Regions from separate parts of the Homo sapiens genome. Here region 1 is linked to region 2. Evidence: fine-mapped expression QTL. A gene starts in region 2. The other region holds a variant in brackets. All regions are shown on one strand. Distances are between the middles of the regions.

Region 1 (5,381 bases), 550 kb after region 2:
GAGGGAGATGAAGTAGAAGCTCCCTTATTAAATGCTTGTTTATAGCCTTGGCCCATTTTTTCTACTTTTTCTCCCACGTCACTTTGTATAACCCTCTTATACATTCAGGAAAGCAGCCTTTGGTTAAATGGTACACACTTTTGTCCCCCCCCCACCCCTCGGTTTATTATTAATTTATTTCTTTATCATATTTTTTGCCATGGATTTTTTTAATGTATAAAATAACCTTCTAACAGATCCTTTCATTTTCACCCTTACCACAACTGTAATCTTTTAAAAACGAAAGCCAGATCATGTTGCTCCCTTGCGTAAAACCTTCCTACTGTTTTCCATCATTCTTAGAATAAATTCTGCAAATTTACCATGACCTTAAAGGCCCTTCCTGGTCCAGAAGCTGCCTGTCTCTCCAGCTCATGCCTCCCCTTCACTCACTGGGCACCACACATGCCTGAGCTCCTGCTCGTGTCAGTTCTTGGTACCTTGTTTAACTTCCATCTAGAATGTTTTTTCCTCTTGTCGACAGATAGCGGACAGAAGACGGCACTTCCATTCTTCGAGCCATGGTTTCAGAGTCACCTTCTCAGAGAGGCTTCTGGTATCCCCCATTTAAAGGAGGCCTGCCTTGGTTATCCTCTGTCTCCATTCCATGTCTGTCTTCTTACACTTACCACAGTGTACAGGTACTTATGGTTTGCTTCCCTCTGTCATTTCCACTCCAGAATACAAGCTCCCTGAGGACAGGACCCTGTCTGTCTTGTTCACCATTGCAGCCCAGCATCTCTACCAGTGCCTGAAACATGTAGTCTCTCCCCAGTTCTTATTTAATGCATGAATTCATGTCTAGTTAGAATTCCCATCCCCTTCCTTCACAGCTTTGCATTTTTCTGGGACGTTTAGAAAGGTATTGATCTCTTGTTTCATTTTCAGGTTCGAGGTCATTCATTGAGATTCCTTTTCATTCAGTGCCCTCTCTGTTCCAGGCACTGTTTGTAGGCACTGGGATTACTGTGTGAACAAGACAGTGGCCCTCCAAAAACTCTAATCCCAGTGTGGACATCATGAGCCCATCACAAAAGGTAAATGGAGAAAAGAAATAAATGATTTTCAAAGATGACAAGAGCTATGGAGAATATAAAGCAGGATTATGTGAATGTGAAAATAAATTTAAATAAAATAAACTTGAAGTAAAGCAGGATTATGAATGTCATTATGTGAAAATAAAGCAGGATGGGGGTGCCCAGGGGGGTCTCTCAGGAGGGGACACATAAGCAAGATGAGAAAGAGGCAGTGTGGGACAAGTGTGCCAGGCAGGAGAACACCAGGTGCCAAGTTGCTGAGCAGGAAGGAGCTTGGTGAGTCCCAGGCACAGAGATACTGGGGCAGCCTCAGAGGAGTTCCTCAGTCATGAGAGGAGGGATCACCCCACAGAGGTGGGCAGGGACTTCCGGGGACATGTATGGCACCATTCTAACTGCAAGGAGCAGCCACTGCCGCTCTCTAAACCAGGGAGGGCACCACACTGTGATCCATTTAGAAGTCAGTTTAGTGAAAGAAAAAAAGAGAGACCTAGCCTCATAATTTGTCTTTACTCAAAACTGCTGGTCAGTTGTCTCATGTATTAAATAATTCATCCTGGCCGGGCATAGTGGCTCACGCCTATAATCCCAGCACTTTGGGAGGCTGAGGCAGGCGGATCACTTGAGGTCAGGAGTTCGCAACCAGCCTGGCCTCGGCCTTTTCACATGGTGAAACCCTGTCTTTACTAAAAATACAAAAATTAGCCGGGTGTGGAGGTGGGCACCTGTCATCCCAGTTACTCCGGAGGCTGAGGCAGGAGAATCACTTGAACCCTGAACCCAGGAGGTGGAGATTGCAGTGAGCTGAGATCGCACCACTGCACTCCAGCCTGGGTGACAGAGAGACACTCTGTCTCAAAATAAATAAGTAAAATGAAATAAATCTATTTTTCCCTCCCCAAGATTTGATGTGACGTGCTTCTTTTAACATGCTTTGGTGGCCCTTGAACAACTTGGCGGTTGGGAATACCAACCTCCCACGCTGTCAAAAATCCACATGTAACTTTCAACTCCCCCAAAATTTAGCTACTATTACTGTTGACTGGAAGCCTTACTGATAACATAGTCAATTAACATATATTTTGTATGTCATATGCATTATATACAGTATCTTACGATAAAGTAAGCTAGAGAAAAGAAAATGTCAAGAAAATCATAAGGAAAAGAAAATATATTTACTATTCATTAAGTGGAAGTGGATCATCATAAAGATCTTCATCCTCATTGTATTCAGTTGAGGAGGTTGAGAGGGAGGAAGGGGAGGGGTTGGTCTTGTTCTCTCAGGGGTGGCAGAGGCGGAAGAAAACTCACAAGTAAGTTAATTCCTGCAGTTCAAATCCCTGTTGTTCAAGGGTCAACTAACTGTCCTAAATTTCCCTTGGATATTTAGTATATTTAGGGGCTCCATTCTGTTCATTTGTTACCTGAAACCAAACGTTTTGATTATTGTATCTTCATGATATATTTTAACATCTCCAACCACCACCCTTCCTTTATTATTATTTTTTACAGAATTATCCTAATTTTACACATTTGTTTTTTCCCAGGTTATTTCCTAATCCTTCTGCCAAATTTCAAAAGTGAAATCCTCTTCATGTTTTAACTAAAATGTGTTAATAAATTAAAGAGATATTGTGTTTTTAACAATATTATAATATTCTAGTAATAATATACACCACCTATTTTTACTTGTTCCCATAGTGGATTTTTGCTTTTTATACATTAATTCAACAGCTATTGGTTTATTAAAATAACTCATATAACTTGCTTGTAAAAACTTGTGGAAAT[T/C]TGGAAAACAGAAACGCAAAAGGAAAAAGAAAATACAGAAGCAACTAAGAATCCTATATAATTGTATCATGCAGAGAGAACAATTGGTTAATGGGTTCAAGGAGTCTCTTTTATTCTTGTACATGCAGGCACTTGTATGGGTTATTATATAGCATATTTCATTTCACACTGTTTAAAAATGAATTTTTTTTTTTTTTTTTTTTTTTTTTTGAGACAAAGTCTCACTCTTGTCGCCCAGGCTGTAGTGCAGTGCCACAATCTCGGCTCACTGCAACCTCTGCCTCCTGGGTTCAAGCAATTCTCCTGCCTCAGCCTCCCAAGTAGCTGGGATTACAGGCACCCACCACCACATCCAGCTAATTTTTGTATTTTTAGTAGAGATGGGGTTTCCCCATGTTGGCCAGGCTGGTCTCAAACTCCTGACCTCAGTTAACCCAACCACCTTGGTCTCCCAAAGTGTTGGGATTACAGGTGTGAGCCACCGCACCTGGCCGAAATTTCATATTTGATCCTGTGATAGTAAGTATTTTCTAAAGCAAAATTATAATAGTTACCCAATATTATACCACACAAATTTTTGATAATTTATTTAACCACTATTTAATTATTATACATGTCAAGGATTTGGGGTAATGTTTGGTTCTTGTAAGTGTTATTACAATGAACGCCTTTGAATTTTTCTTCTAAAAGAAAAATGTAAAGCTATCTTGTAAAGATAGTTCCTTTTGACTTCACCTGTAGTTGACATCTTTTACTAGTTTTTCTCCTGGAGTGGAAGGCCCTTTTGTATAGCAAAGGTTTTAACCCTTTTTCTGCCAAATGCGTATGATGTTCACCTAGTTTGCTGTTTGCCTTTTAATTGTATAGAGTATATTGAATGAGGGAAGGTTAAATTTTTTAATATTTTGGGGATTTTTTTAAAAGGTGAGGATCTATCTAGATTGATTTTTCTTCCAAATAATCAATTTTCACGATATGATTTGTTGAACTATATGCCCTTATTGTTCTCATTCTGAAGGTGTTTTAGTCTATACCAACTTCTAGTTCACACAGAACTATCTATTCTATTCTATTCTATTCTATTCTATTCTATTCTATTCTATTCTATTCTATTCTATTCACCTGTCGGTTGAGTCTTACTCCTGTGCTAAACCATTGTAATTACTAGTGTCATGTTGTATTTCAATTTCCTGAAGGTAAGAGTTCCGTTTTTCAATATGTTCTAATTCACACAGCGGCCGGTTAGCTCAATTGGTTAGAGTGTGGTGCTAATCAAAATGTTCTAATTCTGAATCCAGAATAGAAAGAGGTCTCAAATAAACAGCAAGAATCTCATACATGTTGGCTGGTGTGTTCATATGAGAATTAATTCCACACCAAGCGCACTAACTATGCTGAAATGGAAGAGCTGGGAAAGAGATCTTATGCCTTGACTGCCTGCTTCCTTGAAACAAAGGCGCTCATTGGAAACTACAGTTCCCAAAATCCACTGCTCCAGGGCTTGACTGGTGCCTCTGCTGCCCACTGCACTGAGCTCATGAACCACTCTGGCCAGAATGGTCCTTTCATCGGGCTCCAGACAGCAGCCAGAGGATGTCCTGAGATGGTGGCTAGGAGAGGGAAGATATAAAATGTGCTCTGAGGGCCTCAAAGGCAGGACCACTGTCTATTGGGATGGATGTTCAGTTCTTAGGTTAGACAGGACACTAGCCCTCTGGCCCAAGAAGCCCGGAGAGAGGGAGAACCCCTCGACCTGTCTTCTTCCCTTTTGGCTAATACATTCATTCAGACTGGAGTGGCAGAACACGCTTTGGCATTTAACAGCAATCTCCATTCTGCTTCGTGTAGAAACTGCCCTAGATACCTGGATCATGAGCTACCAGTCTTGTTTTCCGGCAATGATATCCTGTTCTGCTCCTTTCTGTTACTTTAAAAGTATATCTGGGCCAGGAACGGTGGCCCACACCTGTAATCCCAGCACTTTGGGAGGCCAAAGTAGGCAGATCACTAGGGCAGGAGTTCAAGACCAGCCTGGCCAATATGGTGAGACCCTGTCTCTACTAAAATACAAAAATTAGCCGGGCGTGATGGCACTTGCCTGTAGTCCCAGCTACTTGGGAGGCTGAGGCAGGAGAATCGCTTGAACCCAGGAGGCGGAGGTTGCAGTGAGCCAAGATCTTGCCACTGCACTCCAGCTTGGGCAACGGAGCAAGACTCCATCTCAAAAAAAAAAAAAAAAAAAAAATTATATCTGAAGGGCCTTGGAAGGTATTAAGAATTGCTTGCCAGGTGCCACCTGGAATTAGAAGTCACCAATTACTTGTTTTAGTAAATAAATAAAGTAAATATAAAATGCTAATGTCTTTCAGTATTAAGTTTTGCAAGAAGTGGCTGCAATTTTTCTCTGTGGGTGCTGTTGACAGCTCCTGCTTGGTCTTAGGAAGCTGGGGAAGACAGAAAGAAGGAATAATGGCTACTAAGCAGCTTGGGAGAGGGAGAGTTTCCTTAGCCCATGAG
Region 2 (5,381 bases):
CTTCCCAATAGGGCAAGGTCACTCCCATTGTCTTCACATTTCAGAGCATTTAGTTGAAGCTATGTCCAAGATAAGAACTCTAAGTTCCTGATTCTTTATAAATTTATCAGTTGTAATGTCCTTTCCCCAAATCACTCTGCCTCTAAGGCAGTAGAATTTTGCCTCTCTTTTTTATTTAGTATTGATACCTGCAATATGCCTGAGAAAGAAATCTAAAGGGACACTTATTGAGACAATAAAGGCACATGCAAGATCATGAAAGAGACAGAGAGGTGGAAAAGATGATGTTTTAAAGATGATGCCCATTGAAAGATGAGCAGAGAAAAGAATGCAGGAGATAATTTCAAGGAAAAAAAAATTTCACTGAGCTAAAAGTGTTCAAGCCTAAGAATACCCCCTCTAAGGGTAAAGTTTCATTCTCACCGATATGACAAACATTTTCCCAACAGAAGAAATTTAACACATTATATAAATACCCCAATACGCAAATGGTGGTAGTAATAATTAGTTTTCTCCCCTTTCATCTCCGTTGTTTCTGCCCACACGCATTTCCTATTTCGAGCTTTGGTGTAACAAATGCATCTTTTAAACTGGAAGCCCACGCCTTGTTTTTGCACAAACACAGGTCTCTTTATCGCCACGTGCAGTCTCTCCAGCTCAGGGAGCCGAACAATGAGGCATTTTCTTCTCTCCCTGGCTGCAGAGCTCTGACAGAATTCATTTAATTTCCATGTAAAGTGTAATCGGCGGATAATAATAGGTCACTCACAGCAATATCATTCTGCTCGCCCTGATCACCCATCATTGTGCTAATTGCGGGATAATGTAATATACAGCCAAGGCACACACATAGAATTAGACTGAGCATTTGTTTTTGTGATGCTATGAACAGGATATAAGAGAGAGTGTCATGTCAGCAAATATCATAGACATAGCCCCAGTCTTCCTAAAATGACTCAGGAAATAAAAGTAAAGATTCTTGTATACAGAGGATCTTTGGTATTCTTGATGTCACCTGCAAAATCCACAGGACTTAGGTGATTTTTCTGGGCACAGCTAGACCACGTAAATGCTCTGTCATCCCTGATGTCCCAGTTTTTTGGCTCCTTGGGACAGAAGCTTAGAGCAGCCAAATGATTGCTTGGGCAGGTGACAATCACCTGCTAATTGGCTGTGCTCATTTTAAAATATTTCAAAAATATTGATCATAAACCTTAGATTCTTCTTTCTAAGCCCAAAGACCCTCAAAGCAGCAGAGGCCTTTTCTGTATAGAATTGCTATCCTGGCCAGGCACGGTGGCTCACGCCTATAATCCCAGCACTTTGGGAGGCCGAGGCAGGCGGATCACGAGGTCAGGAGATCCAGACCATCCTGGCTAACAAGGTGAAACCCCGTCTCTACTAAAAATACAAAAAATTAGCTGGGCAAGGTGGCGGGCGCCTGTAGTCCCAGTTAGTCGGGAGGCTGAGGCAGGAGAATGGCGTGAACCCGGGGGCGGAGCCTGCAGTGAGCCGAGACCGCGCCACTGCACTCCAGCCTGGGCGACAGAGTGAGACTCCATCTAAAAAAAAAAAAATTGCTTTCCTTCCTGTAGAAACCTAAATTTTCCCATGCATGCTGTTTCTTTTTTGTCTCTGTGTTGGCAAAGTCAGGAGCTATCATAGCACATGGGCGCCAAAAAGGTGGGTCCTAAAGATGGCCTAGCCCAACACGTTCATTTAATTTATTTCATGATTTTTTATTCTTGTTACAAAGACAATTCATGTCTATTGTAAGTTATCTGGAAAGAGGGAAGAAAACAGAAGTGAACCCAACCCTCCAGAGAGCCCTGCAGTGCAGAGAATGAAGGTGAAGCCACAGAGAAAAATAATTTTTCTTTCTCAGAGAGGGACACTAGGAGGGGTGGAAGGATGTGTTTGCAAGAGGTTTGAAAACTCATATCTGAGAATAGTGTATGTCCGTCTTAGCAGTCAGCATCCCTCATGGATGTTGTCTAATCCTCATGCGCTGGGTGGGGCCTCCCAGCAACTCTCCTGCCAAGAAGCAAGGCAGCCTACTGGTCAGCACAAAGCTTGGCCAGCTCCAGCGCTTCAAGCCAGATTTTCAGGCTTTGGAAGAAGAGAAGAGCCAGCCCATTCCCTGCTCTCCTTCTCTGGTTTTTTTGGGGTATGTGTGAAGATGGAAATTATGCTCATGACCTGACAGAGACAGAAAGATAGAGAACTTCACAGACGCTAGGAGATGGAATCAGATGAGAAACAGCCTGTATTAATCTGTTTTCACACTGCTATAAAGATACCACCTGAGACTGGGTAATTTATAAAGAAAGGAGGTTTAACTGACTCACTGTTCCGCATGGCTGGGAAAGCCTCAGGAAACTTACATTCATGGTGGAAGACGAAGGGGAAGCAACACACTTCTTACGTGGCAGCAGCAGCGAGCAAGGGATCGAAGGGGAAGTGCCACATTTTTAAACCATCAGTTCTCGTGAGAACTCATTCACTATCACGAGAACAGCGTGGCGGAAACCACTTCCATATTAAAATCACCTCCCACCAGGTGCCTCCCTCGACACGTGAGGATTACAACTTGAGATGAGTTTTGGGTGGAGACACAGAGCCAAACCATACCAAGGTCCAAGGGAGAAAGAACCAGAGAAAGCAGATGGAGCTGAGAGACAAGTGTAGGGGAGAAACAAATACAGCACCAGGAGTGAGAGAGTGAGGAAGGGATAAAGGAACAAGACAGAGGCCCAGAATGGTAGGGAACAGAGAAACAGAGGGAGAGAGGTACAGAGGGAGAGGATAATGGAAGGGAAGAGAGAGAGATGGGCAATGAGGGATGAAAAGAGAAAGAGAAACCCAGAGTGAGACAGAACTAAATGAAACTGACATGAGTGGCGTCTATACAACAGGCTGAGCCCAACGTTGTGGCAGGGGTCTGGAGGGAGGTGAGTGTGAATGTGTGCATGTGCATGTGTTTGTGCATGAGGGGGCGCTGTTGGTGCTAGAAGGAGCCTTAGACAATGCACAGGATTTAAAAGCTTCCTCTGGCTGGGCGCCGTGGCTCACGCCTGTAATCCCAGCACTTTGCGGGGCCCAGGCGGGCGGATCACCTGAGGTCAGGAGTTCCAGACCAGCCTGGCCAATATGGTGAAACCCCGTCTCTACCAAAAATACAAAAATTAGCTGGGCGTGGTGTCAGGTGCCTGTAATCCCAGCTACTCAGGAGGCTGAGGCAGGAGAATTGCTTGAACCTGGGAGGCTGAGTTTGCAGTGAGCCGAGATAGCACCACTGCACTAAGGTCTGGGTGACAGAGCAAGACTCTGTCTCAAAAAAAAAGCTTCCTCTGACTTTTGATTCATACACTCATGTCTACCCCTAGATACTCAGAGCACCTTGATAAGCCTGAAGAGGAGATTGTGTTCTTTATTCTTTCTCTCTTACCTGAAAAGCATTACTTCTTCCCATATTTCAACCATTTCGTCAACAATTTGGTGATTCCCTGGTTCATGACTCTGCACACTGAGAAGCATGAGGTCATTTTGGAGGGGGCTCCAACCAGACCAAATGTGATATGAGCTGAGCAGAGGGAGTGGGGTTTGGTGAGCGGGAAAGCAGTGAACACCCTCTGTTGGTTCAGTTCAGGGGTCAGGCCCAGCTTCCCCAGGGCACTGAGAGCTAACTCAGATTTCCAGCACTGAGGTCACAGATCCAGGAATGGGGACAAAGAGTGCCAAGCCTGAGGCTTCAGGTGAGTGGTCAATGACTCTCCATCCAGGGCGTCAGCCTATAGGTCCATAAGTAGAAACTAGCAGGCATCAGACTGAAGGGACACTGGACCCTGGGCTCAAAGCCCAGGACCGAATTCTAGAAGCCAACATAGCAGGGGGTGGAGGTGAAGAGAAAGCTCTGTTCATGAGCAAAGTGGCCCTAGGGACACTGGATTCTGAGAATAAATGGCAGTGGAGGGTCCCTAAGATGGAACAACAGAGTTACTCAGTAAACGTAGCTAGGCTTCCCCATCCTAGATCACAGTGGCCGACTTGATTCAAAGCATCAGAAGGTGGACAGAGGAAGCAGCTGCTACCCTCCTGCCTGTGAAAGTTGTCTTGAGCTCTGGTCAATGGAAGACTCATTTGTGAAGAATGGAGAGAGAGAGAGGAGACATTGTCCCTGTCCTATAGGTGTGCCCAGTCACAAGGGAGACATGAGAAAACACCCCCCGACACACACACACACACACGCAAACACATCTCCAAACATGCTTATGACTACCATTATGATAATGGAGATACACAAAAAAAAGGAATAACAAATTCTACATCCTTGCTACTCAAAGCATGGTCCACGGACCTGAAGCATCAGCATCACCCGGATGCTTATTCAAAATGCAGTAGCCCAGGCCCTGCCACAGCTATAGAAGTAGGATCTGTGTTTTATCAAGAGCACATGAAGCCTGAAATGCCACACTCCACATGACAGGGGATCAGAGAAGGCTTCTTGGAAGTGTAACACTTCCGTGAGTTGGGTGTTACTTTGTCTTATAAGTAAGGAAAATGATATTTGAAAGACTGGATGGGTAGCCCAAAGCAGCATATCTCTTAAATGACCAAAGCTGGTCTCAAACTCAGGTTTATGACTGAAAATTAAACTTACTAAATCAAAGATCACCACTTATGTCATGGCGGCTATGTGCCAAGCCCAGAGCTAAGTACTTTATTACTCAGTTCTTTGTGTGTTTGGATTCTCACAATAACCATGTAAGATATATTTTCCCCAGTGCACAGAGGAAGTAACAACAGGCTCAAAAAAGGCAGGTGATGTTTCCCAAAGCCACACAGCTAGCAAGGGGCAAAGCTGGGATTCAAATACACAACTGTCTATTCCTGAGTCTGGGCTTGATCTTCGATCTGCTTTATATTGCCCAGGCCTGGTCACTGTGCCCCCCTGCCTCATTTTCTAAAGATGGAAAACCTGCTCTTCCGGTGACATCTATCATTCTGTTCTTCTGTCTGGTCACAGCCAGCCAACTGTGGCCAAGCCTGTGGCCAGCCGGCAAGGACAACAGAAGCCACAAGCTGGGAGCAGGCAGCAGAGAGATCTGTGGCACATGCTGGTCCCTAGCATTGGGCACGAGGGCTCCAGATCAGCACAGCATTTGGAAACCCACTTTAGGGTCAGAACTGGACATTTGTGTGCTTTCTGCCTGAACCATGCACTTAATGTCCTCCCATATCCACAGGCCAGACCCCCTGGAGCTGCCAGCCTGGGAAATGTTAAAGGATGTCAGGTTCCCAGAATGTTTTGAGTTTTCCCAGTAGCAGGATGTCGGGGCTGGGGAGGCACTTCTGTGTGCTCGACTGTTTCTCTCGTTATA

Evidence for each region. PIP is the estimated chance that this variant, and not a neighbour inherited with it, causes the effect.
Region 1: its variant is the best candidate, but not a certain one, in a credible set for the expression of LINC00922 in lung (TOPMed, PIP 0.62).

What each region holds. Positions count from the first base shown.
Region 1 is chr16:66,121,296-66,126,676 of GRCh38, forward strand. No RefSeq gene overlaps it. Among named protein-coding and RNA genes, the nearest start is that of CDH5, 240 kb to the right of the region's middle. The variant T/C (reference allele first, on the strand shown) is at 2,865.
Region 2 is chr16:65,573,855-65,579,235 of GRCh38, forward strand. LINC00922 (long intergenic non-protein coding RNA 922) reads right to left here and starts at 2,443. Exons shown (of 10, transcript NR_174971.1): 1 at 2,385-2,443.